Homo sapiens: one gene and its partner. The protein of the gene in region 1 interacts with the protein of each later gene in a biochemical or structural test. Each region holds a gene or a part of one and is shown on either strand. Other genes may lie near its edges.

What was found.
Region 2: the proteins of SPRED2 (region 1) and NBR1 form a complex in vitro, tested with the Homo sapiens proteins (one study listed by BioGRID).

The regions. Positions count from the first base shown.
Region 1 is NC_000002.12:65,334,704-65,351,773, reverse strand, and holds part of SPRED2 (sprouty-related, EVH1 domain-containing protein 2), read left to right. Parts: intron 1-6,877; coding exon 6,878-7,055; intron 7,056-17,000; coding exon 17,001-17,070. UniProt on the Homo sapiens protein: Negatively regulates Ras signaling pathways and downstream activation of MAP kinases. Recruits and translocates NF1 to the cell membrane, thereby enabling NF1-dependent hydrolysis of active GTP-bound Ras to inactive GDP-bound Ras.
Region 2 is NC_000017.11:43,167,552-43,184,621, reverse strand, and holds the start of NBR1 (next to BRCA1 gene 1 protein), read right to left. Parts: upstream 13,409-17,070; 5' UTR 13,320-13,408; exon of another isoform or gene 12,519-13,319; intron 8,832-12,518; 5' UTR 8,823-8,831; coding exon 8,721-8,822; intron 6,687-8,720; coding exon 6,624-6,686; intron 5,229-6,623; coding exon 5,210-5,228; intron 3,828-5,209; coding exon 3,805-3,827; intron 1-3,804. UniProt on the Homo sapiens protein: Ubiquitin-binding autophagy adapter that participates in different processes including host defense or intracellular homeostasis.

The DNA of each region.
Region 1 (17,070 bases):
TCTACTGAAGCATTTTGTTGATTCTTTTTAAAAAGATCACTAGTCATATGTATTTTATATTCACATATACTTCATACACACATATATAATATTTTAAACATATAATTCGATGAAATCAAAGAGCCTTTATAAATCTATAAGCACAAGGAAGACCGGGGGCGGGGGATGTGATTAAAATAAAGTGAGTGTGCCTGGCTCCCTGCAAGAAGTTGGTGTTATATTTGGCTCAGCTGGCGTCTGGGAGTTGGGCTGGAGAGGCTGGGATCTTGGCTAATCCCTCTCAAGGTCTGGTGAAGTGGAGAAGAGGCTGGGAGGAAGTGAATCTAATGTTGAGCATAATGGAGAGATAAAGGAGCCGTGTAATCAGATAAGGGCTGGCTGTAGGAAGTATTTATGGGGGAGGTAAAAGTCCCAGTCTCCATCCCTGAAAGAAATGGGGAGGGGCAGGAGCAGAGGGCCAGTTCACAGATGGCGGACAGCATTATTTTCTTCTACAGGTATGCCTGCAGTGGACGACTAAACCTGGTCTTTATAAACCTGACTTCTCTTGACAATTGCTGGAGGTCCATGTCAAATTTCCTCCTACTGTCAAGAGCCTGACAGCTTCCCTGCCCCTCCACTCTCTGATAGCTGGAAAGGGCAGGCAGTCGAAACCCACTCCTCAGTGGCCAGGGAAGCTGGTGTTTCAAGGACCTGTTTTTGTCACTGAGGTAGCCTTTCAGCAAAAATGATGATGGTTACAACTTACCAAACTTCTGGATCTGACACGACCTGTAACACTACTTTCAGCCAGCAGGGTAGATCCCCTATTCATTTTGCAAAGGAGGAAACTGAAGCTTAAAAAGAGGTTTCTTCAGCTCCTGAGAGGGCTGGGGACTTCAGGGCCGCCTGGCCCTAGAGCACACATTCTTTGTGAGACCCAGTGCTGCCTCGCCGTCATCTCCTACACTTCCTTGGTTTATGTCTGTAACGTGGCCCAGACGGGGCCTGCTTTGAAACTGGAGAACACTTAGAACATAAAGGCTGAGGTCTAAAACTTTCCTGTGGAGATGCTAATCCAGTTTTGAAAGATTTTTTTCTCTGCCTTCCTATCCTGACTTACAATGTCACCTGCCTCTTTTGCATATTGCGTGATCCCGGGACAGGAAGCCCTGTTTTTACAAAAAGTCCACATGTTGGGAACACAAGGCTTTTTCCTTAAAGAAGCCACATTTAAATGGGAGATCCTCAGTCCAGCCAGTTTTGCTCATAACACAACTAAAGAATATGGTATTGAGGGCTGGTCGTCCAACACCATTTGTAATAACATTGTTGGGGCTGTTCAGCTCAAGTTCAGACACTCGGGCTCCATTCAGTTGGGGTTTGGACCCTTGGCTGGAGCTTCACTAGATCCACACCATTACAGCAGTTGTTAATTTCAGAAGCATTCTTTTAAAATGTTGTTATTTTTGACAAAGATAGCATGTTTTGACATTTTTTTCTAAGGCATACCAGCAGCAGTTTCCTTGTGCAAATTTTTAAAACTAATCTGCCCTTGCCCTTCCTGCCCCATCCCCCCACCACTAACAAACCCTGCATCTGTTTTAAACAGATGTTGTTTAATTCTTTCCAGAAAGAGGGGGAGGGAAGGTGGGAAGAGAGTTTTCCTCCTTTATACCTTTTTGGTAGTGGAGTTCATTGTCATTTCTGTGCTGGGTGGGGTGAAGTGCCTGAGTAACGTAAATACACCATGGATAGGAAGCAGTTGGCACGCAGCCATGCAGCTGGATTATCCAGACATCCTTTGCAGCTTTTAGTCCAGCACTTTATCCCCCTGCCTTGTTTTAAATAGCCAGATGCCTCAGTTAATGCTGGCTGTCGGGGCTGTTGCCGGAGGAGACAAAGGGGGCTTCTGCCCCTGAGCCTCCCCTTCCCCCAATCCCATCACAGAGAAGTCTATACCCTGGAGAAGGCACTTGATAGGAGGCATCGAGGCAGGAAGGAGGAGGCCTCAGAGTGCAAGCAAAGGCCAGAGTTAACAGCCTTGTAGTCTGGACACAGAAGGGTATGGTATTTTTAAATTCTCTAACAAATGGGTACTTTTTGGAAATAAGTTTATGGCACTAACATAAGTAATGCAAACTTCTCTTTTTCATGTTTACTTAATCCCCTCAAAGAAACAGAACAGCACATAACTGCAACACAAAAAAAGTGAAAGCATGTTTTAACAAGAGGTGCACAGAGTTTCAATTCTTCACCTTAGCCATCTCCTGTTGAGATGAACCCATAGTATACTTATAGAAGATTTGAGAAAGCTGTGTTGCACACTAGAGAATTAAAAGTCGTAGGACCCTTAGGTTTTTTTGTTTGTTTGTTTGTTTTTAAATAAATGGGGTTGGAGTGGGGGAAAGGATATTCTCCAAAGTTGTATGCAGTTAATCTAAATAAATGTTACAGAAGATTCTTTTTTTTTTTTTTTTTTTTTTGAGACAGAGTCTTGCTGTGTCGCCAGGCTGATCTCTGCTCACTGCATTCTCTGCTCACTGCAACCTCCACCTCCTGGGTTCAAGCAATTCTCCTGCCTCAGCCTCCTGAGTAGCTGGGATTACAGGCGAAAGCACCGCCACGCCCAGCTAATTTTTGTACTTTTAGTAGAGACGGGGTTTCACCATGTTGGCCAGAATGGCCTTAATTTCTTGACCTCATGATCCGGCCGCCTCAGCCTCCCGAAGTGCTGGGATTACAGGCGTGAGCCACTGCGCCCAGCCCAGAAGGTTCTTAATCTAAGGGAATATGCATGTTGAATCCTGAAATAGTTGGATTAGTCATATATGTACATGTATGTCCTATGACTTTTATATGTACTTCTACATGATTTTTCAATTTTTAGGAATAGAAAGTACTGTGATCCCAATTTAGTAATTGTGGTTCATAAGTAAATAAGTATTGAACACTATATGTTTTTATAGGAATTCTGTTAGCCATAGATTTTTTTTTTTTTTAGACGGAGTTTTGCTCTTGTTGCCCAGGGTGGAGTGCAGTGGCGCGATCTCAGCTCTGCCTCTGGGGTTCAAGCTATTCTCCTGCCTCATCCTCCCGAGTAACTGGGATTACAGGCGCCCACCATCAAGCCCAGCTAATTTTTTGTACTTTTAATGGAGACGGGGTTTCACCATGTTGGCCAGGCTGGTCTTGAACTCCTGACCTCAGGTTATCCGCCCACTTCAGCCTCCCAAAGTGCTGGGATTACAGGCATGAGCCACCGCTTCCAGCCTGCTATAGATAATTTTTTTTAAACCTGTTTATATTGTGAATTTAACCCCATTCATTCCGCAACCTGTTACATATAAGACACCATTCTAGGCTCTAGGGATATAGCAGTGAACAAAAAAGGCAAAGTTTCTGCTCCTGTGGAATTCATATTCTGGTAGGCAAGCAGATATTTTATTGAGCAAGCATTGATTTAGTAGCATATAGAAAGCCAAAGCAGAGGGGAGAAGATTTAAGAGGGGTGGAGGGTGCTATGCTGCTTTATATAGAGTGGGCAGGGAAGTCCTCTCTGAAATAACCTTGGACAGAGACTTAAGTGAAATAAGAGAATGAACTCAGTTGGTATGTGAGGAGTAGGATTTGAACAGAAGAAACAGCAAGTGCAAAGGCCCTGAGGTAGAAGGATGCTTAATATGGAGGCCAGTGGGACCAAAGTGGAATGAGCAAGGAGAGTAATAGGGTAAGGTCCAGATTTTGACTTCTGCTTGGCGATACCACTGGAGGGTTTGTTTCAGTAGAATGATCTGACTTACCTTTCTATTTTCTGGGTTAAGTTGGGCAAACGTGGAAGCAAGGATGCCAGTTAGAAGGCTACTGCAGCAATCTCAATGGAAGGTGATGGCAGCTGGATCAGGTCAGTGTCAGTAGAAGTGGAAAAAGTGGATCCTGGATATATTTTGAAGAGAGAACTAGAAGGATGAGGAGGTGTCAGGAACCAAGAGAGTTCAACCTGAAACATGTTGATTGTGATACGTATTCGATGCCTATGTAGAGACCTCACATAGGCCCTTGGTTCTACTGGCCTGAATCTCACAGAAGAGACCTGGATGGAAATGTGAATTTGGGCACTGTTGGTATGTAGAAGGTTTTTAAGTGGAGGAAGTTGGCCCTAGCTTGAATCATGGATGGCTTAACCACAGTTACAGGAGGAAGGGCGGAGAGAGTGCTGGTACAAAGCGTAGGCATGGTGGTGGGCACAGGCGAAAGGTCTCCTGTGATTTTGTCTATTTTCTCAGTGAAACTAAAGCAACTTCATCCATCATCTGAGAGTGAGGGGGTAGGAGGCCATGTGAAGTTGTCTTTGGGGGACAGATCAGGGAAATGTAGCAGGATGCCAGGTGGCACTTAAGGATTCACTTGAGAGTAGTGTTTATGGCTTTAAAACTAGTCCTATGAGCATAGTAGAGTGGGGTTTTTCCCTCTCACTATGTTCAGCAGCCTGGGTGGGGTTACAGAGTAGGTAGATGGTAGGATTTAACTCCACTGGGGTCATGCCAGGCAATGGCAACAAGCAAGGGGAGGAGTAGAGAATCAGTTGAGGACATGGGGTTTGGGGGAGGGCAAAAGTGGTCAGAACAATAGATTGTTGGCCCCAACAGGGTAAAGAATTATTGGAGTCTGGAGGGAGAGAGCTGCAAACTTACGAGGTGGTCGGAGAGCAGGATGCTTACAATTGAGTTATGGAGGTGGTGCAGATATTGGTAATGACGAGATTCACGGTTGACCTGGGCATGAATGGCTAAAGTTGGTTGTAAGACAAGGGCATTGGAAGGAAACAGGCCCAGACACTGAGAGGCCAGGGAATTGGAGGAATCCTCCATGTCAATAATGAAATTATCAAGAATCGGGCCAGGGATCATGGTGGAGAGATGGAGAGTCAGTGAGCCTGGTTGCTGAAGTCTTCAAGGAATGAAGGGAAGTGAGGTCTGTAGAAGACTGAAGAAGGGTTGTGAGAGGGGTCAGGGTGTGAGCTTCAGAAGCACTGGAGGGAGGCTGAATAGTCTGCAGCAGTGGCAAGCACCATACCCACATCTAGGCCCAGCAGGGTGCAGTGGGGAGATAGAAAGCAGCCCTGGGAGAATGGGCCACAGAGGCCCAGCCAAGAGTGCATTTTAATTTAGGTTAGGAAAGGGAAAGGAACTTATATGAGGTACCTAGAGTATCAGATTCATAGAGACAAGACAGTAGAATGGTGGGTGCCAGGGGCTGAGGGGTCGAGGAAGTGGAGAAGGGGGAGTTAGTGTTTTTCATAGGTACAGAGTTTCAGTTTGGAATGACGAAAAGTTCTAGAGGTAGAAAGGGGTGATGGTTGCCCAACAGTGTGGGTGTAATTAATGCCACTGAACTTGTATACTTAAAAATGGTTAAAGCGGGAAATTTTATGCCATTCATATTTTACCGCAATGAAAAAAAAAATGAAAGGAATGATCAGAGAAGGGGATGAGGAAGTAAAGGGAATGGTAGATCTTGGGTTGGGGGGGCCAAGGGAGATCAGTTGGGTGGCAGTGGAGGGTGAGCCATAGGGGGTCATAGAAAATCTGGTGGCTTTGCCTTTAGCGGTGAGTGAGGTGAGCAGGGCTGTGGGGCACAGGGACTGCCTCCACGTCTCTGGCCAATTGTGGGGACCAGGTTCTGAGTGCCCAGGGTGAGGGCGTCTTCCCTGAGGCCCAGGGAATAATGGGGGTTCTTTGTTACTCTGCAACTTTGTTTCCTGAGAATCTGTTATAACGCCTGGCATATACAACACGCAAATATATGTTTGAATGAGTAAAAATGAATTCTATCCAAAGAAAGAAAACAGCAAGTGAGAATGTAATGGCCTTGCCAAAAATCCAAATAAATTTCCCCCAAAAGTGATGAAGAATGAAAAGAAGCTAGAATTGGTCTCTGGGGGAGAAAAAGGATTTTTGGCAAATGTGCAGAAGAACTTATTGTGAAATTGAGGTTTTAGACTGGAAGAAATAAAATCATAAACAGAAGTCTACAAATATGTAAAGGGTTATTGGAATTGAAATATTTTCCTACCTAGATACGTGATTTCATGGTGAATTTATGATTTGCAAGTAGATTATCCTATTTTATGCTAAATGAGATTCTTGGCTTTATAAAATGTTAAAACTTGGTCATTCATTTTCAACTCATTTTAAAGGGTTGAAACCATAATACCGTCTTAATAGGTTTGTAGTCTGGGCGTGGTGGCTCCCGCCTGTAATCCCAGTGCTTTGGGATGCCAACATGGGTAAATCACCTGATGTCAGGAGTTCCAGACCAGCGTGCCAACATGGTGAAACCCCATCTCTACTAAAAATACAAAAAACTAGCCAGGCATGGTGGCAGGTGCCTATAATCCCAGCTACTTGGGAGGCTGAATCAGAATCGCTTGAACCCGGGAGGCGGAGGTTGCAGTGAGCCGACATCGCGCCATTACACTCCAGCCTGGGCAACAAGAGCGAAACTCCGTCTCAAAAAAAAAAAAAAAAAAAAACAACAACTAAAAACCAAAATAGGTGTGTGTCTTTCCAACCTAAAGATACTGAATTACAGAAATCAATTCATTTATCAGTACTTACACCTAGAAACTGGAGAATATTGTGCCTGTATACATCTTTCGATCACAAGTAATTTTTAATTACTTATCTTTTTTAAAATGTACTTTTATATTGAGTTTAAGTGTTTTGTTTTTTCCCTAAAAGTTGAGATGGACCACTTTTTAAGGTTGCCGCCAAGCATAGATTTCTTTCGATAAAACAAAAAAAGTGCTGGCTGGTGGTCATCTTGCATTTTGAAACGTGTTCTGCAACTACCAGACCATTGTCATGCCCTGTGCTTCTTCTTCTTGTCGTTTTAGTGACAGCTATATTGTGCGTGTCAAGGCTGTGGTTATGACCAGAGATGACTCCAGCGGGGGATGGTTCCCACAGGAAGGAGGCGGGATCAGTCGCGTCGGGGTCTGTAAGGTCATGCACCCCGAAGGCAATGGACGAAGCGGCTTTCTCATCCATGGTGAACGACAGAAAGACAAACTGGTAATGGCAGACATACAACTCGTGGGTTAAATTAGTAACAACTGCTTTCTTTACGTTAAATCATAGTCCTCTTTCCTTAACGTATTTTTTTCTTTCTTTCTCTGACTTCAAACTCTTGCAAAAGCTTCAAAAGTTAGAACCCCGGAGCTGGTGCCAAATTGTAAAACGTGACTGTCCTTTCCAGCAAAGTCTCTTTTGACCACACGCTTTATCCGAGATGCTTAGAAGTATATTTGGCTGTTTTATTTGCATCTTTGATTAAGATGTCTATCATTGTAAAAAGGTATTCAAAACAAAAGTGTACTCTTTTATTATTATGAATCACATTGTACTGAGCTGTGAAGTCAGTGTTTTAAAAATGTAGAGTTTATTCATGGAGCATGCCATTGAGGTTTGGATGGTGGCAGGTAAAACAGAAAGGCAAGATGTCATCTGACATTAGGCTACTTATAAATAAATGTTTATCTAGCTTTTATTTCATGCCCTAATGAATAAAACATGCTTGGAAAAAGAAAGTAACAAGAAGTAGTGGTATCATACTTTGTGGGTTTTTTTGGGTTTTTTTTTTTTTTTTTTTTTTTTGAGACGGAGTCTCGCTCTGTCACCTAGGCTGGAGTGCAGTGGCATGATATTGGCTCCCTGCAACCTCCACCTCCCAGGTTCAAGCAATTCTCCTGCTGAGTAGCTGGGACTACAGGTGCGCGCCACTACACCCAGCTAGTTTTTGTATCTTTAGTAGAGACAGAGTTTCACCATATTGGCTAGGTTGGTCTCGAACTCCTGACCTCAGGTGATCCACCCACCTCGGCCTCCCAAAATGCTGGGATTACAGGCATGAGCCACCGTGCCTGGCCCATACTTCTATAAATTATTATCCATGCTTATAGATAAATACTTTGGAAAGTAATCATCACCTCCCAAGGGTGGGGGATTGACACTTCATAATATATGGTCTTATGGAGGAACTCAAATGTTCAGTTCTATGTTATGAAGGAATCTATGATAGGAAGGAAAATTGAATGTCCAAAATCTGTTTTAAATTCATGGCCCTAAACATGGAAGAACACTACTTCTATCTGTATTTGATCATGGAGTGTATACTCAGAAGCCAACAGATGATTCAGAATGTGCAGGATTGTGCAGGATCCCACAGAGAAAATGCAAAGACACCACAAGAATATGTCAGTGTTACATCTGAGACCCTTTACAGCAGCATCTGTTGGGTTTTATGTGTTAAGTGTACAAATTTAACCTTCTTTTGCAAGCACTTCTTATAGTTTAAAAAAATTTAGAAAATAGATAAGACAGAACAATTTGTAAATGTTACATGTGGGTTAACAGAAATGTTATTTTCACATTTGATTTCATTTCTGAAAATTTAAAGGGAGAAGACAGCTAATTTTAAGAAGTATTTGTTCAGGAAATACCCTATATAATAGTCAAATAATGAAAACATTCTTGTTTATAATATTTTTGCAATAAAAAGCAATGTAACTATATTACCAATAAAAAGTAAAATGACTACCATTTATCTAGCATTTACCATGTACTAAGTATAATCCAGCCCTTCGGTTAGATCTCTCATTGTATCCTTACAGCAGCCTGTATAATTGTAATTGAAGAAATTATGATTCAGAAAGATTCCTTGTTCTTAGTGGCCTGTTTTGGGGGCCTGGAACCAGTATTTGATTCTCTTGTCACTCTGACCCCAAAACTGAACAACCACCCTTAGCCCTTTGATGTAATTTTCCCACTTTGTACTTTTTTTTAAAAAGGCAGGATCTCACTTTGTTGCCCAGGCTGGCCTCCAACTCCTGGGCTTCAAATGGTCCTCCCACCTCATCCTCCAGAGTAGCTGGGACTACAGACACATGCCACTGTGCCCAGCCATATTTTTAAACAGTTGTGTATCTTATTTATTTTGCCTTAAACATTCTCTTTCAAGACTATCATGAAACAACATTGCCCTAACATTCTCATATGAAATTTTCCATGTTGCTGATATCAGTTTGATGTTTCATTATTTGACCACCTCCTTAGTGTCAAATATTAAGGTTCTTCCCCTCACCTCAGTGTTAGGAATACACCTATGTGAATTTTCCACGTTTATTATAGTTTTGGAATAATTTAGGAGGTCATATTTTTATGACTTTTGATACATGTGCAAGGAGCTGCTACCAGTATTAGAATTTCCTTTAACACATTGAGGGATATAAAATATACATACATATATAATATACGTATACAAAATATTCATACATATATAATATATATACAAAATATACATACATATAATATACGTATACAAAATATACATACATATATACATATACAAAATATACATACATATAATATACGTATACAAAATATACATACATAATATACGTATACAAAATATACATACATAATATACGTATACAAAATATACATACATAATATACGTATACAAAATATACATACATAATATACGTATACAAAATATACATACATAATATACGTATACAAAATATACATACATAATATACGTATATAAAATATACATACATAATATATGTATATAAAATATACATATAAAATCTTATTGCTTGCTAATTAATAAAATGTTTTTCTGTTTGTTAAACAGTTATAACTGTGAATTAATTATCTGTTGATGTCCTTTGTATATTTACTTATCAGGGCCTTATTTTTCTCCTTCATGTGTATGCCCTCTTGCATAATAAAGATATGAATCTCCATCTGTCATATTTGCTGCAAGTATATTTTTATAATCTGTTGCTTGCCCTTTTAGTTCTTATTTTTATATATATAGAAATTTTTTTCCACTTCTTTGGTCTTTTTGTTTTTAGGGTTATTCTGTGTTTTACCAGATTATCTTGTCTGAAGGCTTATGTTTTTAGAGCTACTTTTTCCTGGTATTTCTATGGTTTGTCATAGAATACTTCAACCTAAAGTGGCCCTTTAGCTTATCTAATCTAGTCACTGGTAAGACATTACTAGTGCATAGTAAACTTTTACCATTTGTTCCAGGTCCTTTAAGTAAATAACCTCAGTTAAATTCCTGCAACATTTTGAAGGAGGAAGATACTACTATTTCCACATTGTAGTGGGGAAACTCAATGCTCTAAGAAGTGAGCCACGTCCTTGGCATGGGGTGGGCAGTGTCACCAGCAGAGCCTGCGTTTGAGCTCATTTCTTTGCAAAATCAAAGCCTGTCCCTTCACACTAACTTGGCATAATATTAGGGCAGTCCAGTCCTCTGTCCGCCCCCGCTGAGTCGTGGACCAACTGCTGTTGTTTGTTGCTAGTGTACACAGATTGCACTATCCTAAAAGTGTGCCTCATCCCCTCCCCCATCATGTTTCTCCATTTCCCCACCCCTTTTCCTGTCCCCTTTACATTCCTTGACTCCACACTTGTGGGCTTTTATATTCACTAGTACCTAAGTCACACACCCATATGTCCTGCTGTACTTCTCTGTCTCTCCATCCCTCACCTTGCCTGTTTCACACTCCAGGAAATTCTGGATTTCTGTACTGAGTGGTACTTAACCCCTCCCCTCACACCCATACCCAGCACACTCATGCACATGCACACACACACACACACACACACACGCCCGTACCCAGTCTCCCTTCCTCTCTCTCTCTCACTGCCCTCCCCCCCACCACCCCGCCCCTTTCTCTCTCCTTAGAGATATGATAACTCTTCCTTTGGCCTCTCAAGCTTCTCTAATGCAATGCTAGTGCCCACTGGAGACCATGCGCCCACATGGGAGCTCTGCAAATGTGGTGAGTTATTGAGGAACCCCCCTCTAAAAGGTGGAATGGCAAAGAAAAGATGAAGATTATTTTTAGGATATATTGGATGGATTGTATCAGAGTTCCCAGTATTCCAACTAGGGCATGAAGTGCTCTTTCAGATAGAAACAGTGTTGTCAGTTTTTACAATGTAGTGCACATCTAGAATTCAGCACATTGTGGGAGTTTGTTTCGTTACATATTGAGGGCTGTTAACTACCATTGTTTCTGTGGGAAAAGTCTCTGTTCCAGACAACCATTCACGAGTAGTCAGGTAATTTTTTGGTAAGCTGGGGACAGTCAAGCCTGAGAAATTATATTTAAATTAAAATTTTCTGAGTTGAATCTCATTTTTAGATGGATTAGAGGAGTTTACTCCTGAAACAAATCTTATGAGAAACCTCTTTATGGAGACTAATCACAAAATCTAAGAGTTTGATCATTCCAGTCATTGCCCATGTGTAGGTCAGCGAGCATTCTCACATAACATTTGGTGGGAATTTGAGCTGGCAAAGCTCTTTGAAAAGCAATTTGGCAGGATTTTAATTTTAAATGTGCATATCTTTTTACCTAGCAGTTCACATCTAGAACACTATCCTTTAGAAAAAGACTTAAACACACAGAGATTTATGGACAGTAACAGTTCTTAAACTTTTTTGGTCTCAGGATCCCTTTACACTCCAAAATTTTATTCAGGACCTCAGAGAGCTTTTGGTTTGGTGAGTTACAGCTATTTATAACTTGCCATATTAGAAATTAAAATGGAAAAAATTTAAAACTTTTAATTAAACAGTATTGTTAATATAAATGACATTTTATGGCAAATAACTGTATAACTTTTCCAGAACAAAAGTAATTATGAGAAGAGTGGCATGGCTTTATGTTTTTGAAGATCTCATTAATATCTGGCTTACCAGAAAATAGCTGGATTCTGGTATCTGCTCCTGCTTTTAATCTGTAATATATTATTTTGGTTGAAGTATATAAAGAAAATACAGCTACTCACAGAGAAGGGGAGTTAGTAAGGGGAGAAATATTTTAATAGCCTTTTCAGACAATTGTAGATATTCTTCTTTGATACTACACTAAAACTCAACCATGTGGAATCTGAAATCTATCAATGGACCTTTCATACTCTGTTACATTACCACCCACTGGTTTATCTTTCACTTTCTTTTTTTTTTTTTTAGGATTTTTTTTTAATTTTATTTTATTTTTTATTGATCATTCTTGGGTGTTTCTCACAGAGGGGGATTTGGCAGGGTCATAGGACACTAGTGGAGGGAAGGTCAGCAGACAAACAAGTGAACAAAGGTCTCTGGTTTTCCTAGGCAGAGTGTTTGTGTCCCTGGGTACTTGAGATTAGGGAGTGGTGATGACTCTTAACGAGCATGCTGCCTTCAAGCATCTGTTTAACAAAGCACATCTTGCACCGCCCTTAATCCATTTAACCCTGAGTGGACACAGCACATGTTTCAGAGAGCACAGGGTTGGGGGTAAGGTCATAGATCAACAGGATCCCAAGGCAGAAGAATTTTTCTTGGTACAAAACAAAATGAAAAGTCGCCCATGTCTACTTCTTTCTACACAGACACGGCAACCATCCGATTTCTCAATCCTTTCCCCACCCTGCCCCCCCTTCCATTCCAGAAAACCGCCATCGTCATCATGGCCCATTCTCAATGAGCTGTTGGGCACACCTCCCAGACGGGGTGGTGGCTGGGCAGAGGGGCTCCCCACCTCCCAGTAGGGGCGGCCGGGCAGAGGCGCCCCTCAGCTCCTGGACCGGGCGGCTGGCCGGGAGGGGGCGCTGACCCCCCGCCCAACCTCCCTCCCGGACGGAGCGGCTGGCCCGGCGGGGGGCTGAGCCCCCCACCTCCCTCCCGGACGGGGCGGCTGGCCGGCCAGAGGGGCTCCTCACTTCCCAGTAGGGGCCGCCGGGCAGAGGCGCCCCTCACCTCCCGGACGGGGCGGCGGGGCAGAGGCGCTCCCCACATCTCAGACGATGGGCTGCCGGGCAGAGACGCTCCTCACTTCCTAGATGGGATGGCGGCCGGGAGGAGGCGCTCCTCACTTCCCAGGTGGGATGGCGGCCGGGCAGAGACGCTCCTCACTTTCCAGACTGGGCAGCCAGGCAGAGGGGCTCCTCACATCCCAGACGATGGGCAGCCAGGCAGAGACGCTCCTCACTTCCCAGACGGGGTGGCGGCCGGGCAGAGGCTGCAATCTCCGCACTTTGGGGGGCCAAGGCAGGCGGCTGGGAGGTGGAGGCCGTAGCGAGCCGAGATCACGCCACTGCACTCCAGCCTGGGCACCATTGAGCACTGAGTGAATGAGACTCCGTCTGCAATCCCGGCACCTCGGGAGGCCGAGGCTGGCGGATCACTCGCGGCTAGGAGCTGGAGACCAGTCCGGCCAACACAGCGAAACCCCGTCCCCACCAAAAAAACACAAAAACCAGTCAGGCGTGGCGGCGCGCGCCTGCAATCGCAGGCACTCGGCAGGCTGAGGCAGGAGAATCAGGCAGGGAGGCTGCAGCGAGCCGAGATGGCAGCAGTACAGTCCAGCTTTGGCCCGGCATGAGAGGGAGACCGTGGAAAGGAGAGGGAGAGGGAGACGGGAGAGGGAGAGGGAGACGGGAGAGGGAGAGGGAGACGGGAGAGGGAGAGGGAGACGGGAGAGGGAGACGGGAGAGGGAGAGGGAGACGGGAGAGGGAGAGGGAGACGGGAGAGGGAGAGGGAGACGGGAGACGGGAGAGGGAGACGGGAGAGGGAGAGGGACTCTTTCACTTTCAATAGATCTCTTACTCATCCCTGATTTTGTAACATCATGCACTGGTCACCTGAAAAATAGTGCTCCACTGAGTTAAGCAGATCTTCCAAATGTTGATACATTTTATTCTATAATATCAAAAAACTACATTTCTTAGTATTGCCACTAACTCATTAATATAAAAAAACTACATTTCTTAATATCGCCACTGACTCATTAATATCAAAAAAACTACATTTTTTAATATTGCCACTGACTCATTAGAAAAGTCTTTAAGTACCAGGAAGCTGTCTAGAATTCTAATTTATACTTCAAATATAGATAAGGATGTAAATTGCAGCATTGCCTTCAAGGTGACCAATTCTTACTGACATAAATGTCCGTTAGTATGGAGAATGGTTGAATAAATCTAATACATCCATACAGATGAATTAAACAATTATTTTACCTTCCTGTATCTCTATGACATATTTTTAAGGAAAATAAAAAGCAAGTTAAAAACAACTTATAGGTGTGGCTACATTTAAACACAGTTGCCCTTACACAGAAACTTACCTGTGTATATGTAAAGAAGCCACAAAATGGAAACTGGGATTGTGCCCGCTCTACTGACAGTGGGGAACTCGACAGAGAGGGATGTTGACGGTGGAGGGGAGAGATGAGTAGGAATGGAGTCCTCATGTCTTCAGCTAATACTTAAATCTCCCACAACATGTATTTCTTGTGTAGTTTTTTTTTTCAAGTCTCGAACAAGAACATAATCACTTTTTTTCTCCGTATGCATCTTATTTAAACGGGTATTTTTTAAAGCCTTTCTCAAGTTTTAAGTTAGTGTCTAATTGTGTGCGTGCCAAAACTTCACCAGAGAGTTTATATCTGTTGGGAAGATTAAAGCATCTAAAACCTTTTCATTTTTGTCTTTAAACTTAGATACATATGATACTATTTTGCTTTAGAGGACATAAAGAGATGGTATCTGATTTCCCCCCTCACTTAATTTAGGTGGCTGAACTTATTTTACTCAAACTTTATTTTTTTTTTGAGACAGAGTCTTGCTCTTTCGCCCAGGCTGGACTGCAGTGGCACGATCTCGGCCCACTGCAAGCTCCGCCTCCCGGGTTCACGCTATTCTCCTGCCTCAGCCTCCCTAGTAGCTGGGACTACAGGTGCCCGCCACCATGCCCGGCTAATTTTTTGTATTTTTAGTAGAGATGAGGTTTCACCGTGTTAGCCACGATGGTCTCGATCTCCTGACCTCATGATCCGCCCGCCTCGGCCTCCCAAAGGGCTGGTATTACAGGCGTGAGCCACCGCGCCCGGCCATTTTACTTAAACTTTTCTAAGAAAATGTACCTTTGGAATAATTTCAAAGTTGGAAAATATCAACCAAAGACTAATTTTTTCACCCCCAAAATATGGAGAAACTAGGAGTCTTTGTTTTTAGAATACAAAAAGTTTATTTTGAGACTTTGAATTGAGACTATTAAATTCTAAAATAGATAACATTTGTTAAATTCTTGATTATTTGGATTTCCCCAATGTGGAATGGGGCTGGGCTGACATTTAATCATTGTGCTATTCTTAGGGGGAAATGGCTATAATAAGCAATTTAATCATAAATAGAATTATGGGAGGGAACTGTTGTCCGATCTCAATACAATGTAATAAAGTTAACTGCTTGGGACTACTATTTGATATACCAATTTGAATATTATTCTCATTTTTTTATTAAGTTAGGGAACATTCATTAGACAACCCTTAATTTATTTCTCGTTTGTTTTTTCCTTTTGTTGAGACAGAGTCTCACTCTGTCACCTGGGCTGGAGTGTAGTGGTGCACCTTCTCAGCTCACTGCAGCCTCAGCCTCCCAGGCTCAAGCGTTCCTCCCACCTCAATCTCCTGAGTAGCTGGGACTACAGATGTGTGCCACCACACCCAGCTAATTTTTGTATTTTAGTTAGAGACAGGGTCCTGCCATGTTGCCCAGGCTGGTCTCAAACTCCTGGGCTCAAGTGATCCTCTTGCCTCAGCCCCCAAAAGTGCTGGGATTACAGGCATGAGCCACTGTACTGGCCTCCTTCTTTTTGCTTTGATCTATTCTTAGAATTTATACTTATTTAAAGATATTCTCTAATTTATCTGTATACTAATTTAGGCAGGTCTTTACTCTTGTCCTTCATTTAGTCTAAATTAATAAGATCACATTGCGGTAAATGCAGATCTTTGCCAGAACAAGATTGGGCTATTAAAACTTAGCAAAATCATTATGGTGTTTGTAATGAAGCCATAGGAATAAATATTGTAAGTAGTCTGAGTTTTTTAATGAATAAAGAATGAAGTTTACGTTCAAATTATTGCAATGTTTCTTTTCTATAATATTAAATAAATTCTAGTATCTCTATCAACTGTGCTAGACGGGGTTATTTTATAATCTTGACTTTTTGTAGTCTAGTTAGGGGAACAAGACTAATACACATGAAACTGTTAAAGAATAGTTTGAAATCAGGTACTAAATTGTGAAGATGACAAGAAGGAGAATTGGAGTACATATAAAACTTGACAGGGAAGATATACTGGACAATGAATGTGAATTAGGTTTCTCATTTATTCAGTGTTTTCAGAGCATGTTCTTGTTCTCATTGATAACATTGGTGTTCTTTCCATCTTAGAGATAAAAAGATCAATCTACTCATTACAACTCAGTAAAAGCCAGTTCTGAGATTAAATTGCTAGAAACTTGAATATTGTTCTATTAATCCAAACATAAAGTTAATAGAGACCCAGATCAGGGTGGCAGCAACTGAAATGGGGTTGATATAAAAGCTGTTGAAGGAAAAATGAAATGGACCTGGTGATTAATAATACAGGAGATAGGCAGAGGAGGCAAAGATGACCACAGAGATGATGAGCCAGAGAAAAAGAGTGGAGAGGGATTGGTATTGCCAGAAGTTGGGAGAGGAGAAATTTTAGAGTAAAGTTAATTTTTCAACTTTTGGAATTTGGAGCCTCGGGGGAGGGAAGCTAGATGACCATCAATATAAAAACCCCAACATAAAAGCAGTAATCTGAAATACAGCCAAGACCCAAGACCTGAGCATCAACTTAGTGCCCTGCAGCCAGGAGGAAGAGGAATAACCGTGATGAAGAGAGTGTAGTGAAGGGGTACAACCAGGACAGTGGGGAGCAGCGAAGATCGGATGGTCAGCAGCCAAGCAAAGCCTCCTTTCCCATTGGAGAGACTCACAGATATGTGAAGGCAGGGGTTAGAGGGGTTTTGGTAGTTGCCACCAGTGATGGTTCCTAATTAGACTTCTGTAACCAGACATCATCATGGCTGTTCCACTAGTAACCAGCCTGTGTGTTTCCATCCTTCAGGTGGTATTGGAATGCTATGTAAGAAAGGACTTGGTCTACACCAAAGCCAATCCAACGTTTCATCACTGGA
Region 2 (17,070 bases), on another chromosome or scaffold:
GTCTGAGCTGAGCAGATCACCTGAGGTCAGGAGTTCGAGACCAGCCTGTCCAACATGGTGAAACCCCATCTCTACTAAAAATGCAAAAATTAGCTGGGCATGGTGGCATGCACCTGTAATCCCAGCTACTCAGGAGGCTGAGACAGGAGAATTGCTTGAATCCAGGAGGCGGAGGTTGCAATGAGCTGAGATGGCGCCACTGCACTCTAGCTTGGGCAACAAAGTGAGACTCTGTCTCAAAAAAAAAAAGAATAGTATTTTGGGGCGATGAGAGGTGGGTCATGCCTGTAATCCGAGCACTTTGGGAGGCTGAGGCAGATAACTTGGGCCCAGGAGTTCAAGACAAACCTGGGCAACACAGCAAGGCCCTGTCTCTATTAAAAAAAAAAAAAAAGTTTAAAAATCATCGGAGCATGGTGGTATTTTCCTGTAGTCCCAGCTACACAGGAGCCTGAGGTAGGAAGACCACTTGAGCCCAGGAAGTCAAGGCTGCAATCACACCACTGCACTCCAGCTATGTGAGCTGTGATCATACCACTGCACTCCAGCCTGGGTGACAGTGAGATCCCGTCTCAAAAAAATATATCGAAGTGATTTTTTTTAACAAGTGCTGTCAGTGAAAAAAAACTTTTTAAAAATAAAAATAACTAGCCAGGTGTGGTAGCTGGGTACAGTGGCTCACACCTGTTATACCAGCACTTTGGGAGGCTGAGGCAGGCAGATCACTTGAGGCTAGGAGATTAAGACTAGCCTGGCCAACATAGCGAAGCCCTATTTCTACTAAAAATACAAAAAACAGTTGGGTGTGGTGGCACATGCCTGTAATCCCAGCTATTAGTGTGGCTGAGGTATGAGAATTGCTTGAATCCAGGAGGCGGAGGCTGCAGTGAGCTGAGATTGTACCACTGCACTCCAGTCTGGGTGACAGAGCAAGACTCAAAAACAAACAAACAAAACCAGCCAAGTGTGGTGATGCACACCTGTGGTCCCAACTACTCAGGAGGCTGAAGTGGGAGAACTGCTTGAGCCTGGGACGTTGAGGGGGCAGTAAGCCATAATTGCACCACTGTGCTCCAGCCTCTATGACAGAATGACACACGTGTCGCTGGGCGCAGTGGCTCATGCCTGTAATCCCAGCACTTTGGGAGGCTAAGGCAGGTGGATCATGAGGTCAAGAGATTGAGACCACCCTGGACAACATGGTGAAACCCCATCTCTACTAAAAATACAAAAATTAGCTGGGTGTGGTGGCGCATGCCCGTAGTCCCAGCTACTCGGGAGGCTGAGGCAGGAGAACTGCTTGAACCCGGGAGGTGGAGGTTACAGTGAGCCAAGGTCGCGCCACTGCACTCCAGCCTGGCAACAGAGCAAGACTCCATCTCAAAAAACAACAACAAAAGGAATGACACACACGTCAAAGAAAAAAAGAGGCCGGGCGTGATGGCTCACACCTCTAATCCTAGCACTTTGGGAGGCTGAGGTGGATGGGTTGCTTAAGCCTAGAAGTTCAAGACTAGCCTGGGCAACATGGTAAAACCCTGTCTCAAAAAAAAAAAGACGCCAGGCGCAGTGGCTCACGCCTGTAATCCCAGCACTTTGGGAGGCCAAGGCAAGAGGATCACCGGAGGTCAGGAGTTCGAGATGAGCCTGGCCAACATGGTGAAACGCCGTCTCTACTAAAAATACAAAAATTAGCTGGGCATGGTGGCATACACCTGTAATCCCAGCTATTAGGAAGGCTGAAGCAGGAACATCACTTGAACCTGGGAGGTGTAGGCTGCTGGTAGCCAAGATCGCACCACTGTACTCCAGCATGAGCAACAGGGCGAGACTCCGTCGCAAAAAAAAAAGAAAAAAAGCATTCAATGGGTAACTACATCTGAGGTGATGGATGTGTTAATTAACTTGATTGTGGTAATCATTTCACAATGTATACATATTTCAAAACATCACATTTTATACACATTTTTATATTTAAACATACAAATTTTTAAAAATTAGAAACTAAAAACAAAAAAAAAAGCATTCCATGTCCAAAAAGTGGCTGTCATCTCTGCCTTAAACATAACATTGTATGGGCTATAGAGAACAGAGTGACATAGGCTGTGCACAGTGGCTCATGCCTGTAATCCCAGCACCTTGGCAGGCCAAGGCAGGCGAATCACTTGGGTAAGGAGTTTGAGACCAGCCTGGCCAACAAGGCGAAACCCTGTCTCTACTAAAAACTACAAAATAAATTAGCTGGGTGTGGTGGCGCACACCTGTAATCCCAGCTACTTGGGAAACTGAGGCATGAGACTCACTTGAACCCCAGAGGTGGAGGTTGCAGTGAGCCAAGATTGCGCCACCGCACTCCAGCCTGAGCGACAGAGTGAGACTCTGTCTCAAAAAAAAAAAAAAAAAAAAAAAAGGAGAGAACAGAGTGAGGGAAAGAGGTGAAAAATGTGAACCAGTAAACATAGTTCTAGAACAGGCATGGTGGTGCACACCCATAGTCCCAGCTACTCGGGAGGCTGAGGCAGCAGGATCACTTGAGCCCAGCAGTTCAAGGCTGGCCTGGGTAACATAGCAAGACCCAGCCTCTTTAGGAAAAAAAAAAGGGGGGCATCAAGAGTTTTTTGGGTTTTTTTTGTCTTTGAGATGGAGTTTCCCTCTTGTTGCCCAGGCTGGAGTGCAATGGCGTGATCTCAGCTCACTGTAACCTCTGCCTCCCAGGTTCAAATGATTCTCCTGCCTTGGCCTCCCAAGTAGCTGGGATTATAGGCATGCACCACCACACCTGGCTAATTTTTTGTATTTAGTAGAGATGAGGTTTCACCATCATGGTCAGGCTGGTCTTGAACTGCTGACCTTGGGTGATCCGCCTGCCTCAGTCTCCCAAAGTGCTGGGATTACAGGCATGAGCCACTGCACCCGGCCAAGATATTTGTTTTTTGGTTTGTTTGTTTTTTTTGTTTTGAGACAGAGTCTCACTGTCGCCCAGGCTGGAGTGCAGTGGCACGATCTCGGCTCACTGCAAGCTCCGCCTCCGGGGTTCACGCCATTCTCCTGCCTCAGCCTCCCAAGTAGCTGGGACTACAGGCACCCGCCCACGCCCGGCTGTTTTGTATTTTTAGTAGAGACAGGGTTTCACCACGTTAGCCAGGATGGTCTTGATCTCCTGACCTCGTGATCCACCCACCTCGGCCTCCCAAAGTGCTGGGATTACAGGCGTGAGCCACCACGCCTGGCCAGTTATTTGTATTTTTAAACACTAGAACAGTAGCACAAAGACCAGCAAAGAGATGGGACTGTAACTGAGAAGGACCTTTTTATTATGAATTGCCTTTTGCTGAGTGTCGTGCCCATTCATCAGTCTCCCTATAAACAGGTTTCACTGTGTTTATACGTACTAGTCTCTCCCCATAACTAATGGAATTCAGGTTTGAGTTTCAGTCAATAAATATTTTAGGCCAGACGCAGTGGCTCATGCCTATAATCCCAGCACTTGGGAGGCCAAGGCCAGCAGATTGCTTGAGCCCAAGAGTTCCAGACCAGCCTGGGAAACATGGTGAAACCCTGTCTCTAAGAAAAATATAAAAAGTTAGCCGGGCGTGGTGACGTGTTTCTGTAGTTCCAGCTACTCGGGAGGCTGAGGTGGGAGGATCACTTAAGCCTGGGAGGTGAAGACTGCAGCAACCCCAGATTGTGCCACTGCACACCAGCCTGGATGACAGAGCACAACCTCATCTCAAAAAAAGAAAAAAAACCAACCCATAATAATATTTTTTAAATTATTTAAAAATGAGATTAAATAATCATTACCTTAAGCGCTTCTTCATATTCTCCTAAAAGAACAAAAAATATACACCATGATACTTCTTCACACACCCCAAAAGATTCTATTATTTTAAAATTATTTTTATTTTGTACACATCCATTCATTCATTCAAGAACCAAAGATTCCATAAGATTAAGGATAGCCAATCCTAAAGATGGACTGTACAACATGAGGAACATATTATAGTTAAATAATCGTAAATTATATTCATGATTTTTGCTAAATGAGTAGATTATGGCTGGTTTCTGGGGAGGGCTCAGGGCACCACAGGGCCACTATAATGAGATGATAGATATGTTAATTTGCTTCACTACAGTAACCATTGCCACATAACATTTTGGTCAACCATGTGTATGATGGTGATCCCATAAGATTATAATGCCACATTTTTACTGTACCTTTTCTATGTTTAGATATGCAAATACCATTGTGTTTCAACTGTCTATAGTATACAGCACAGTAACATGCTCTACAGGTTCGCAGCCTATAAGCAATAGGTTATACCATATATCCTAGGTGTGTACTAGGCTATACCATCTAGGTTTGTGTAAGTACACTCTATGATGTCCATATAATGACAAAATCACCTAATTGATGCATTTCTCAGTACAAATCTCTGTCATTAAGCGATGCATTACTGTATATGTATTTCATAACATCATGTTGTGCACCTTCAATATATACAATAAAAATTTGTTAAATGTACAGCTAATCCTGACTTTAAAGAATTCTTAGCTTATTATATATGAACAGCAACTATCTTTTTGCTGACAAACTCCCTTTTTGTTGCAAACAGCATCTACTGTAGATCAGTTCTTCCCCTTAAATCCCTCCTTCATCACTACTGGGAATCTTCCAGTTACAAAATCTCAACCCAGGTCCCTCACATTTACGCACTGAGAGTTCAATGTTAATACTATCATTTCACCTGATTAAATTAAGATTTTAGGGGCTATCGTGGGAAACTAATCTTCAACTATAACATGGTTCCTATGGGAAAATGCACTCCAAGCTCTGAACATCTGATAAATAAACTTTTGGAATACCACTTGTTTTATAAGTTGATATTAACATATATACCAAGTCAGAAACAAATGCAACACCATGGGAATACTTATATGTGTTGAACTGGGAGGCATATTAATTTCAGAGGACTGGCATCTTAAATATGAGAACCTCCCATTAAAGCTGTCCTTAGGGTCCATTCAAAGGCATCATCCTATATATAAAAAACTGCTATACAATAAAATCCCCTAGGTAACTAATGTCCATCAGTGCAATGTCACTCTAAAATTAATACTGCAATAAGGTTTGAGTATAAATAGAAATGCCTCAATGAGCAGATTAAGGTTTTTAAACAAGGCTGAACAGACTCTCTTAGGGACTCACCTTGACTGTTGATGGATACCTATAAAAGGAAAAAAAGCAACAGTGAATTATAAGTGTCTCATCAGTTGAGCATTTCTGTTACTAGGACCAGCCCCATAGGACAGACAAAAACTCAGGCCAAGCGTTCAGCTTTTCCATATCACTTGCTAGTCATGAATAACACTTAAGAAATTTTATTGCTTATCTACTGTGCCCTCCTTTATTTCAGATACATTAAAAGGCAGTGCAATATAACAGTTAGGAGCTTGAGTTCTACAGCCAGAGGGTATGGACTGAACGGCTACTTTACTACTTCCAAGTTTTTGTGCATTTGGACAAGTTATTTTCACCTCTCTGTGCCTCAGTTTCCTCATGAGTAAAATAGTGATGATAATAATGTACTCAATACATGGTACTGTGGCTAGTCTGACACACTGTAACCACTCAATAAAGCTTAGCCATTAGCCTGAGCAACAAAGTGAGATTCCATCCCTCCAAAGAATTAAAAAATTTTGCCAGATGCAGAGAGGTATGTCCTAGCTACCCAGAAGGCTGAGATGGGAGGATTCCTTGAACCCAGGAGCTCTAGGTTGCAGCAAGCTATGCCAATGCACACCAGCCTGGGCAACAGAGTGAGACCCTCTTTAAAAAAAAAAAAAAAAAAAGCTTAGCCATTATATTTGTATTATTATAAACTAAGTGGTAGCTTGTGCTATATGTGAACTTAAGGTCACTATATAATTTTAAAAGTTATCTTGGCCAGGTGTGGTAGCTCACAACTGTAATCCCAGCACTTTGGGAGTCCGAGGTGGGCTGATCGCTTGAGCCCAGGAGTTCGAGACCAGCTTGGCCAACATGGTGAAATACCGTCTCTACTAAAAATACAAAAATTAGCCAGGCGTGGTGGTATACACCTGTAATCCCAGCTACTCAGAAGGCTGAGACAGGAGAATCACTTGAACCCAGGAGCTGGAGGTTGCAGTGAGCAGAGATCGCACCACTGCACTCCAGCCTAGGTTATGGAGTGAGGCTTCATCTCACAAAAAAAAAAAAAGAAAAAAAAAAAAGGTTCTCTCAGGCCAGGCCAGGCATGGTGGGTGTCTCACACCTATAATCCCAGCACTTTGGGAGGCTGAGGTGGGAGGACTGCTTGGGCCCAGGAGTTCAAGACTGGCCTGAGCAACATAGTGAGACCCTGTTTCCTTTTTTTTTTTTTAAGTGAAAGTTATCTCTGAGATATTCTTCAGTGTTGCTTCTCCATTTCTCAACTCCATCTCAGATGCTGCAAGTCTTCTTAGAATATTCAGTTATCAAATATATTTAAACCACCACACAAATAAGCTAAACACTATTTTGAATTATTAAAGCCCATATCACTGGAGAAATAAGATCCCTATTCTGAACACCTAGCAATAAGTGCCATAATATATTTTACCTCTTCATTTTCCTCATCCAGGTATTTTATTTGAATAGTATTCAGATCAAATGAAACTTTTACCTATAAAAGAGATACATATTTAAAGGCAGGTTATAATGTACACAGAAGTCAAAGTAAAAAAAACCCACAAAATCAAAAGACAAACAACAAACAACCTTAATAACCCATAACAAAGGGTTAATATCTGCAACACACCCAGAGTACCAGCAAAACTGCTAATGATACAATTAACAACCCAGGTAAAAATATACATAAAATTCATACAAGAGGAAATCAGAACACCTAACAAATACATCAGAAGACTTTCAAACTTTCTGGTGGTCAGAACAATGCAAATTGAAGCAATGAGATGACATCTCATCAGAATACCAAACTGTGTGTGTGTGTGTGTGTGTGTGTGTGTGTGTGTGTGTGTGTGTGTGTTTTGGGTGGGGTGTGGGGTAGGGAACAGCAAATGTTTTTTAAAGCCATAACATCCAGTGTTGTCAAAACTTCAGGACACTGTCATGTATTTCTGTGTGCTGCTACAATTGTTCTGCAAAGCATTTGGCAGAATCTATTAAAATTTCAAATAAAATGCTTTGTGACCCATTAATCTCACATTTGTATAGGACAGAGTTTATCCTGTAGAACAGTGTATAAGTTATGTGTATAGATGGATATCTCCTGAAGTTTCAAGATAAGAAAAAAAAAAAACGAAAAATATCTTTTTTTTTTTTTTTTTGAGATGGGTCTCACTCTGTCGCTCAGGCTGGATTATAGTGGCTTGATCTTGGCTCACTGCAGCCTCAACCTCCAGCACTCAAGCAATTCGCCCACCTCAACCTCCGGAGTAGCTGGAACCACAGGTGCCTGCTACCAGGCCCAGCTAATTTTTGTATTTTTTTGGTAGAGATGGGGTTTTACCATGTTGCCCAGTCTGGTCTCAAACTCCTGAGCTGAAGTGGTCCACCCATCTTGGCCTCCCAAAGTGCTGGGATTCTAGGCGTGTGCCACTGTGCCTGGCCAAATAATGTTTATAGTATGATCCTAGTATGATATCTGCATGAACATGGAAAATTTAAAGTACATACAGGGCTGTTAACATTGGTTACCCAAAGAAGGTGGGAGTAACAGATGAGGGGGGGGAGAATGGAGGGCTATTAACTGCTTGAGATGGTTTCTCTTCTTAAAATGGGCATGTATTATACTTATACAATTTAAAATTTACAAGGAAGAAAAAAGGCAAGCTGTCAGCTCATTTAACTACTAGGAAAAGAAAGATAACTGATTTTCACATCTTTTGGCAAACAAGATCTAACTTCTTTCTGAATCCAATCTTTTTTTTTTTTTTGAGACGGGTCTCACTGTCACTGATAGGACAGTATGAACAGGTATTTGCTGGAAGGCAGACAACTACCTCAGATCATCTTTTAAGATCTACCATTTCTTTCCCTTTTTAGTTATCATCAGATATAACCAGGTAAACGTAGATTTTTACCAAAGGGTTTCAGAGAGAAACACAGTCAACACAGGAAGTAAAACATTCACCACTGCAAACTGAACAAAAACAGAAGAGTACAAAGGGCAAACCAAGAGGAGGAAAAGCCTTAGCAAAAAAACGGAACAGGTGAACTGCTGTCTAAGCAGGTATGAAAGTTTTTCCTGCTCAACTCTGAGATACTCAACCTCTGACCTAGCAATAAAAACAATTGATAGGCTCTTGCAAAACACAAGTTATATCCTTGTGCAAAACACAAGTCATATCCTCACACAAGAGAACATTTCCTTGGGATCTGGTTGGGTGGAGTCCACACCAATTCACTCCTCATACTGGTTCTAAAATTAATAGGTTTTCTAAATCCTATCTCACTAAAAACAATTTTACCTTCCCTTTCTAAAATGTTCAAAAGGAAATTTATGTGTTGGTTCCCTTTATTGGGGCACATCTCATATATGAATACTGAAACCCTATCAAAAGCAATTTTCCAAAAGGCCCAGAAATGGTAACTATGACAGACTTCACAGCTATGAAACAACACTGCTAAAAATAGCTACCTTTGGAAAAAATAACCATGCTTAAACCAAGGAGAAACAAAATAAAGTAACACTCACCATAGCTTCGATATCAGCCCAAGTTGTATTTTCTGGATCAGAAACCAGAAAGCTTTGAATTTCATTTTTAAAAGTCACATTTAGAGTAACCTGTGGTTCCATGCTGTGAGGCTAGGGTTGAGAAGGTTGGTGGGAGAGAGAGAAAAACACATTAGAAAGGGTTCTATAAGTTGCACTAAAAGTTCACTCAGCAAATACTTGTGAGGACCCAATATGGGCTGGGCTTGGGAGACAGCAATGAACAAAAGAAACACTGTCCCTGTTCTTACGAAACTTACCATCACTGTTAAATAGGAATTGTTTCAGGAAAGAAAGATAGGCTAAAACCATGCCATAAAGACTTGTACTTAAGTCACAAAAATTATTCTTGAAGTTATTAGGAACTTCCACATGTTGGAAACATGTGGAAACAGAAGTATGCTGAAAGTATTTAAATTTTGACCACATTCCCAGAAATCATCTAGCATTTGTAAAATCCTTACGGTACTTTATGATGACTGGTTAACTAAACAAATACTTACTAGTAGCAGGACATACCAACATGGATAAGAGAGATAAGGTCTCTGCCCTCAGGGAACTTGTATTCTTGTATGACTTGAGAGTGACATTCTACATTTTTCTTGCAGAAGGAGGGTTGTCCTAACTTGAGAACCTAGGTTTTCTACCAGTTTTACGAACTTACAGGCCAAAACACTAGCCAAGAAACTACACAGAGGTAGCATTCAATGCCCTCCATCCAAGTTACTATGTTTTTTCACAATCTACTGATTTTTTATTTTATTTTATTTATTTATTTATTTTTGAGACGGAGTCTCGCTCTATCGCCCCAGGCTGGGGTGCAGTGGCACGATCTCAGCTCACTGCAACCTCCACCTCCTGGGTTCACGCCATTCTCCTGCCTCAGCCTCTCGAGTAGCTGGGGTGCCCGCCACCACATCCGGCTAATTTTTTTTTTTTTTTTTGTATTTTTGGTAGGGACGGGGTTTCACCGTGTTAGGCAAAATGGTCTCGATCTCCTGACCTCATGATCTGCCTGCCTTGGCCTTCCAAAATGCTGGGATTACAGGCATGAGCCACCGCACCTGGCCTTGTACTGATTTTTTAAATGGGGGATTTCAAACATATATAAAAGTGGAGAGTAATAAACACTTAGTTAAACCAACAATCAACTCAAGGCTATCCTCATTCACATATACCCCCGCATCTCCCACTTCTGCCCCAACAATGAACTGACCATAGTCAACTAATGTTTTAACCAAACTATAATAATATAATTATTTTATATTATTGTATTTATTTATTTTGAGATAGAGTCTTGTTCTGTCGTCCAGGCTCAAGTGCAGTGGCACAATCTTGGCTCACTGCAACCTCCACCTTCTGGTTTCAAGCGATTCTCTCACCTCAGCCTCCTGAGTAGCTGGGACTACAGGCGCCCGCCACCACGCCTGGCTAATTTTTTTGTATTTTTAGTAGAGACGGGGTTTCACCGTGATAGCCAGGATGGTCTCGATCTCCTGACCTCGTGATTCCACCCACCTCGGCCTCCCAAAGTGCTGGGATTACAGGCGTGAGCCACCATGCCCGGACTATTTTTTAAAATATTTTTATGGGAAAATTTAAATCTATACAAAAGTAGAGAGAATATAATGAATCCCTATGGACCCATAAGCTAGCTTCTTTCATAATTATCAACTCAGGACCAATTTGCTGTAACCAAAGGTTTACAGCAATACCCTTTCCCTACTAGATTATTTTGACAGACATCTATGCTTTTATCCATTAAGAATTGAGTATGTACCTCTAAAAGATAAGAATTTTTTAAAAACAGTCTAGATATCATTATCATGCCTAACAAGTTAACAATTCCTTAATCAGATTTCTATTCTGATCATTATGTTTTTAATTAAGGATTTTGTTTACTGATGAATGGTTACGTTTAACTGGTTTTTATGACTTTATGAAAAAATAGCTTAGGTTGAGAGGAACAAGATATGAAAAAATAGCTTAGGTTGAGAGGAACAAGATTAAGTCCCAGGGATTTACAGCGTGGTCTGCGGGGGTGGGGGTGGGGGGCAGAGGGGAGGCGGAGGAGCACACAAACTGGGAAGACTTAGCTTCCAGACATACCTCCGGCCCATTACTAGACATAAAACTGTGAGCAGGTCAGTTCGCTTTTGAGCTTCGGTTCTTTAACCTATAAAATAGGTCTAATACGTCTGCTTTGACTATCTCACAGTGTTACCATAAGGATCAAATTAAAAATGTGTACGCAAGTTCTTTCAAAATGTCATTCAAATATAAAAAATATGATAATAAAGGCCAAGCACAGTGGCTCATGTCTGTAATTCCAGCATTTTGGGAAGCAGAGGCAGGCAGATCGTTTGAGTCGAGTTTGAGACCAGCCTAGCCAACATGGTGAAACCTCGTCCCTACTAAAAATACAAAAATTAGCTGCGTGTAGTGGCGCAGGCCTTTAATCCCAGCTACTCAGGAGGCTGAGGCAGGAGAATTGCTTGAACCTGGGAGGCAAGGTTGCAGTGAGCCAAGATCATGCCACTGCACTCTCGCCTGGGTGATAGAGCGAGACTCTGTCTCAAAAATAAAATAAAATAAAAAACTGGACGGGTGTGGTGGCTGATGCTGGTAATCTTAGCACTTTGGGAGGCTGAGGCGGAAGGATCATGAGCCTAGGAGTTCAAGACCAGCCTGGGCAACAAAGCCAGACCCTGTCTCCTTAAAAAAATTAAGTTCAATTAAACATTTTAAAAAATAATAGGGCCGGATGTGGTGGCTCACGCCTGTAATCCCAGCACTTTGGGAGGCCGAGGTGGGTGGATCACGAGGTCAGGAGATCGAGACCATCCTGGCTAACACGGTGAAACCCCGTCTCTACTAAAAATACAAAAAATTTAGCCAGGCGTGGTGGTGGGCGCCCGTAGTTCCAGCTACTCGGGAGGCTGAGGCAGGAGAATGGCGTGAACCTGGGAGGTGGAGCTTGCAGTGAGCCAAGATCGCGCCAATGCACTCCAGCCTGGGCGACAGAGCAAGACTCCATCTCAAATAAATAAATAAATAATAATAAACCAGTCTTTAGAACCATAAACCTGTACTGTTTTCCACAATGTAATGCACTGCCCTGTAAAATACTACAATTAAGACTGTCATTTAAAGGCACTTTTTTGAAACCCTAAGACAATTATCCCCCAATTTTCTCCATTCTTTGTTTCTACCAAGAACCAAGTTCACCACCAAAATAATATTAGTCTCTTAACAACAATCCTGCTGACATCTAGTATTCATTCATATGAAATGTAATTATTGGGGTCCTTAAAATTTGAGAATCTTTGTCAATTCCCCAGGACCTTAGGCAAAAAATCAAGGAAATGAAGTGACTCAGTCCGCCAAAAGTGGGTATTCTGAAATATCACTTTCCAACTTCAAGAAACACACTTCCCTACTTGTGAAGGAAATGAATCTTCCTCTCTTTTTCTCAAATTACACAATTGGAAATTTAGATACTCTGGAGCTCCTCCAGCTGGTGGGCCAACTAAGAGAAAACAGGAAGTGGGAGATTCTAGCTTGGCTGGACCATATCCAGGTCTTCATAAGGAACTCTCTTTGGCTGACATGTAAAAAAATTCTTTCAGCAGGAGCATTAATCTTAAACGTGTGTAAACACCAAAGCTATGGTTAACCCTATCTGCCCCTTAGGTCTACAGCCAGTAGAGTCAGATAGCTGGGTCTTAGGCCTTCAGCTTTCATAACTGGCATTATTGTAAGTCCATGCCACTGACTCACCTTTGCTTGGCACAAGTTAGCTTTTCCTCCACGTCGATTTTTTTTTCAGCCTCAACAAAATCCCTTTAATGAAACAGACCTGGCAACCTGAGCTTTGATTACTGTCTCCACCAGAGGCCTTTACAAGCCAAGTTATCCAGGCTTTAAAATGTGTGACCTGAGGCCGGGAGCGGTGGCTTATACCTGTAATCCCAGCACTTTGGGAGGCCAAGGCACGAGGATCGCTTGAGCTCAGCAGTTCAAGCCCAGCCTGGGTTGGTCTTTGAGAAAGCAAGACTCTGTCTCAAAAAAGTGTGGCCTGAAAGCTGAGTGTTTGACAAAAAGGAAAAACAGTGCCTTTCCAAAACCGAAGGTCCCTAACCAAGGAGATCTCTTTAAGGTCTCGAAAAAACGAGGATGGGATGAGAAGGATGTGTAAGTAGTGTCATTTTTTTACTTGCAGAGTTCATCCTAGTCTTCCAGTTTTCGTTTCCTAGCACTCCATGTTCCCAAGACAGTGTCACTACCCCGAGGGCTCTCTCATTTTCTTTGCCTAGGCCCTCATTCCACTGGGGAGTCGTGGCCTTCCATCAGTAGAAGCCGGATGTTCTGACCCACAGACTCTCCAACTCTCCGGCGCTTCTCGCCAACTCGGTCCCTCTGAACATGAAGGGCTCTCTCATCCTGTCACTAAAAAGATTAGCTGTCCCGAAACACGGAAAAAGTCGCCCCTCTTCTTTGCAGGATTCCTCCCTTGAACTTCCCCAAACCCTCTTAGCGTGACGTGACCCCACCCCTAGGTAACCGCAGCTGCTTCCTTACCAGCTTCCCGCCCCCGGGGGGCGCCTGCCGGAGGCCAATGCAAGGACCGTCCGCTACCGGCTCTGCCGCTATCCCTGTGGGGTGAATCTAACATGGCGGATAAAGACAGTAACTAGTCCCCTGTTTCTCCGAGTGTTCGCCAAGATGATTGGCTCTCACCACTTGTCCCTCAAAACGACCACGCCATTGATTGGTGGAGATTGCGTCGATGGGGCGGGGCAGAAGCAACCTGAACCCGAACAACAATAACAAACATTGAGGCTGAGGGGCGGAACTAGGAGTGCGCAGATGTGGGCCAGAGCGGATTTCCCCTTCCCCAGGCAAATTCGGCGCCCACTGCGTCCCCGCAGGCCACTGACCTTAGAGGACTACTTGCCCGAGACTCGTGGGGCTGGATGGGAATCGTAGTCTTCCTAGGAGTTGTAGGTATCTTTTTTTGGCCTAGTCTCTGCTCTCAAGATAGGAGAACATAACAACACTCCAATCCATTACTGTTGACATGTATAAGCCCGCGGAGGTCTCCAATCTATCCACTGGATTTCCGTGAGAATTGTGCCCGCTTTGGTATTGGATGTTCCTCTCCATAAGACTACAGTTTCCAAGGAACAGTGTGGCCAAGGCCTTTCGTTCCGCAATGCATGTTGGAAATAGTAGTTCTTTCCCTCCACCTCCCAACAATCCTTTTATTTACCTAAACTGGAGACCTCCATTAGGGCGGAAAGAGTGGGGTAATGGGACCTCTTCTTAAGACTGCTTTGGACACTATCTTACGCTGATATTCAGGCCTCAGGTGGCGATTCTGACCTTGGTACAGCAATTACTGTGACGTAATAAGCCGCAACTGGAAGCGTAGAGGCGAGAGGGCGGGCGCTTTACGGCGAACTCAGGTAGAATTCTTCCTTTTCCGTCTCTTTCTTTTTATGTCACCAGGGGAGGACTGGGTGGCCAACCCAGAGCCCCGAGAGATGCTAGGCTCTTTCTGTCCCGCCCTTCCTCTGACTGTGTCTTGATTTCCTATTCTGAGAGGCTATTGCTCAGCGGTTTCCGTGGCAACAGTAAAGCGTGGGAATTACAGATAAATTAAAACTGTGGAACCCCTTTCCTCGGCTGCCGCCAAGGTGTTCGGTCCTTCCGAGGAAGCTAAGGCCGCGTTGGGGTGAGACCCTCACTTCATCCGGTGAGTAGCACCGCGTCCGGCAGCCCCAGCCCCACACTCGCCCGCGCTATGGCCTCCGTCTCCCAGCTTGCCTGCATCTACTCTGCCCTCATTCTGCAGGACTATGAGGTGACCTTTACGGAGGATAAGATCAATGCCCTTATTAAAGCAGCCAGTGTAAATATTGAAACTTTTTGGCCTGGCTTGTTTGCAAAGGTCCTGGCCAACGTCAACATTGGGAGCCACATCTGCAGTGTAGAGGGGGGGAAAAAAACGTGACTGCGCGTCGTGAGCTCGCTGAGACGTTCTGGACGGGGGACAGGCCGTGGGGTTTCTCAGATAACTGGGCCCCTGGGCTCAGGAGGCCTGCACCCTCTGCTCTGGGTTAAGGTAGAAGAGCCCCGGGAAAGGGACAGGGGCCCAAGGGATGCTCCGGGGGACGGGCGGGGGAAAGTGAATTTCCGAAGCTAGGCAGATGGGTATTCTTATGCGAGGGGCGGGGGCGGAACCTGAGAGGCATAAGGCGTTGTGAACCCCCCGGGGAAGGGGGCAGTTTGTAGGTCTCGAGGGAAGCACTAAGGATCAGGTTGGGGGCACAGTGTGTCCGAGGAGGAATCCTCCTGATAGGAACTGGAATGTGCCTTGAAGGGGACACCATGTGTATAAGAACATCAGCTGGTCGCCGGGGATGGTGGCTTACGCCTGTATTCCTAGCACTTTGGGAGGCCAAGGCGGATGGATCACGAGGTCAGGAGTTCGAGACCAGCCTGACCATCGTGGTGAAACCCCGTCTCTACTAAAAATACAAAAATTAGCCGGGCGTGGTGGCGCGCGCCAGCTACTCAGGAGCTGAGGCAGGAGAATCGCTTGAACCCAGGAGGCGGAGGTTGCAGTGAGCCGAGATCGCGCCATTGCACTCCAGCCTGGGTGGCAGAACGACACTCCGTCTCAAAAACAAACAAAGAAATAAACACCGGCTGGTATATATGAGAAGATGGGCCCTTGCGGAAGAAGAAGTGCCAGGAATATGTCTGGGAAGGGGAGGAGACAGGATTTTGTGGGAGGGAGAACTTAAGAACTGGATCCATTTGTGCTATTGAGAAAGCGCAAGAGGGAAGTAGAGGAGCGTCAGTAGTAACAGATGCTGCCGGCAGGGATGTGCTTGAGGGGGATCCTGAGATGAGAGTGGGTCGCTGGGAAAGGCTAGGGGCAGGGAGGCCTTGATTGGTGTTGGTTTGGTCGTTGTTGATTTTGGTTTTATGCAAGAAAAAGAAAACAGCCAGAAGCATTGGAGAAAGCTCACCACTTACCCGGTCAGTCACTCCCCTGTAGCTTTCTCTTTCTTGGAGAAAGGAAAAGACCCAAAGGGTTGGAAGCAATATGTGAAAAAATACAGAATTTATATTGTCTAATTACAAAAAGCAACTTCTAGAACCTTTAAAGGATTTTGTATTATTCTAAAACCTTCCAAATCTTAAATTTACCTTATTTTATTTTATTTATTTTTGAGACGGAGCTTCGCTCTTGTTGCCCAGGCTGGAGTGTAATGGCGTGATTTGGGCTCACCGCAACCTCTGACTCGTGGGTTCAAGCGATTCTCCTGCCTCAGCTCCCGAGTAGCTGGGATTACACGCATGCACCACCATGCCTGGCTCATTTTTTTGTATTTTTAGTAGAAACGAGGTTTCTCCGTATTGGTCAGGCTGGTCTTGAACTCCCGACCTCAGGTCATCCGCCCGCCTCGGCCTCCCTAAGTGCTGTGATTACAGGCGTGAGCCACCACGCCCAGCCCAATTTACCTTATTTTAAAATGATAAAATGAAGTTGTCATTTTTCTAAACCTTTTTAAAAGATACATGTTTTTCTAATGTGTTAAAGTTCATTGGAACAGAAAGAGATAGATTTATCTGCTGTTTGCGTTGAAGAAGTACAAAATGTCCTTAATGCTATGCAGAAAATCTTACAGTGTCCAATCTGGTAAGTCACCAGAAGAGGGTATTAATTTGGGATTCCTATATGATTATCTCCTATGCAAATGAACAGAATTGACCTTACATAGAAGGGAGGAAAAGACATGTCTAATAAGATTAGGCTATTGTAATTGCTGATTTTCTTAACTGAAGAACTTTAAAAGTATAGAAAATGAATCCTTGTTCTCCATCCACTCTGCCTCTCCCACTCCTCTCCTCTTCAACACAAATCCTGTGGTCCCTGAAAGACAGGGACCCTGTCTTGATTGGTTCTGCACTGGGGCAGGAATCTAGTTTAGATTAACTGGCATTTTGGTTTTCTTCTAGCTCTAAAACCAGCTCCATCACTTGAAATGGCAAAATAAATCATGAATGAGGCCGGGGGCTGTGGCTCACACCTGTAATCCCAGCACTCTGGGGGGCCGAGGCAGGCAGATCACGAGGTCAGGAGATCGAGACCATCCTGGCTAACATGGTGTAAGGGAGGAGACCACCCCTCATATTGTCTTATGCCCAATTTCTGCCTCCAAAGAAAGAAAAAGTAAAAACTAAAGGGCAGAAATGACATCCACAAGCAGACACCCCAGGTGCCACACCCTGGGCCTGGTAGTTAAAAATCAACCCC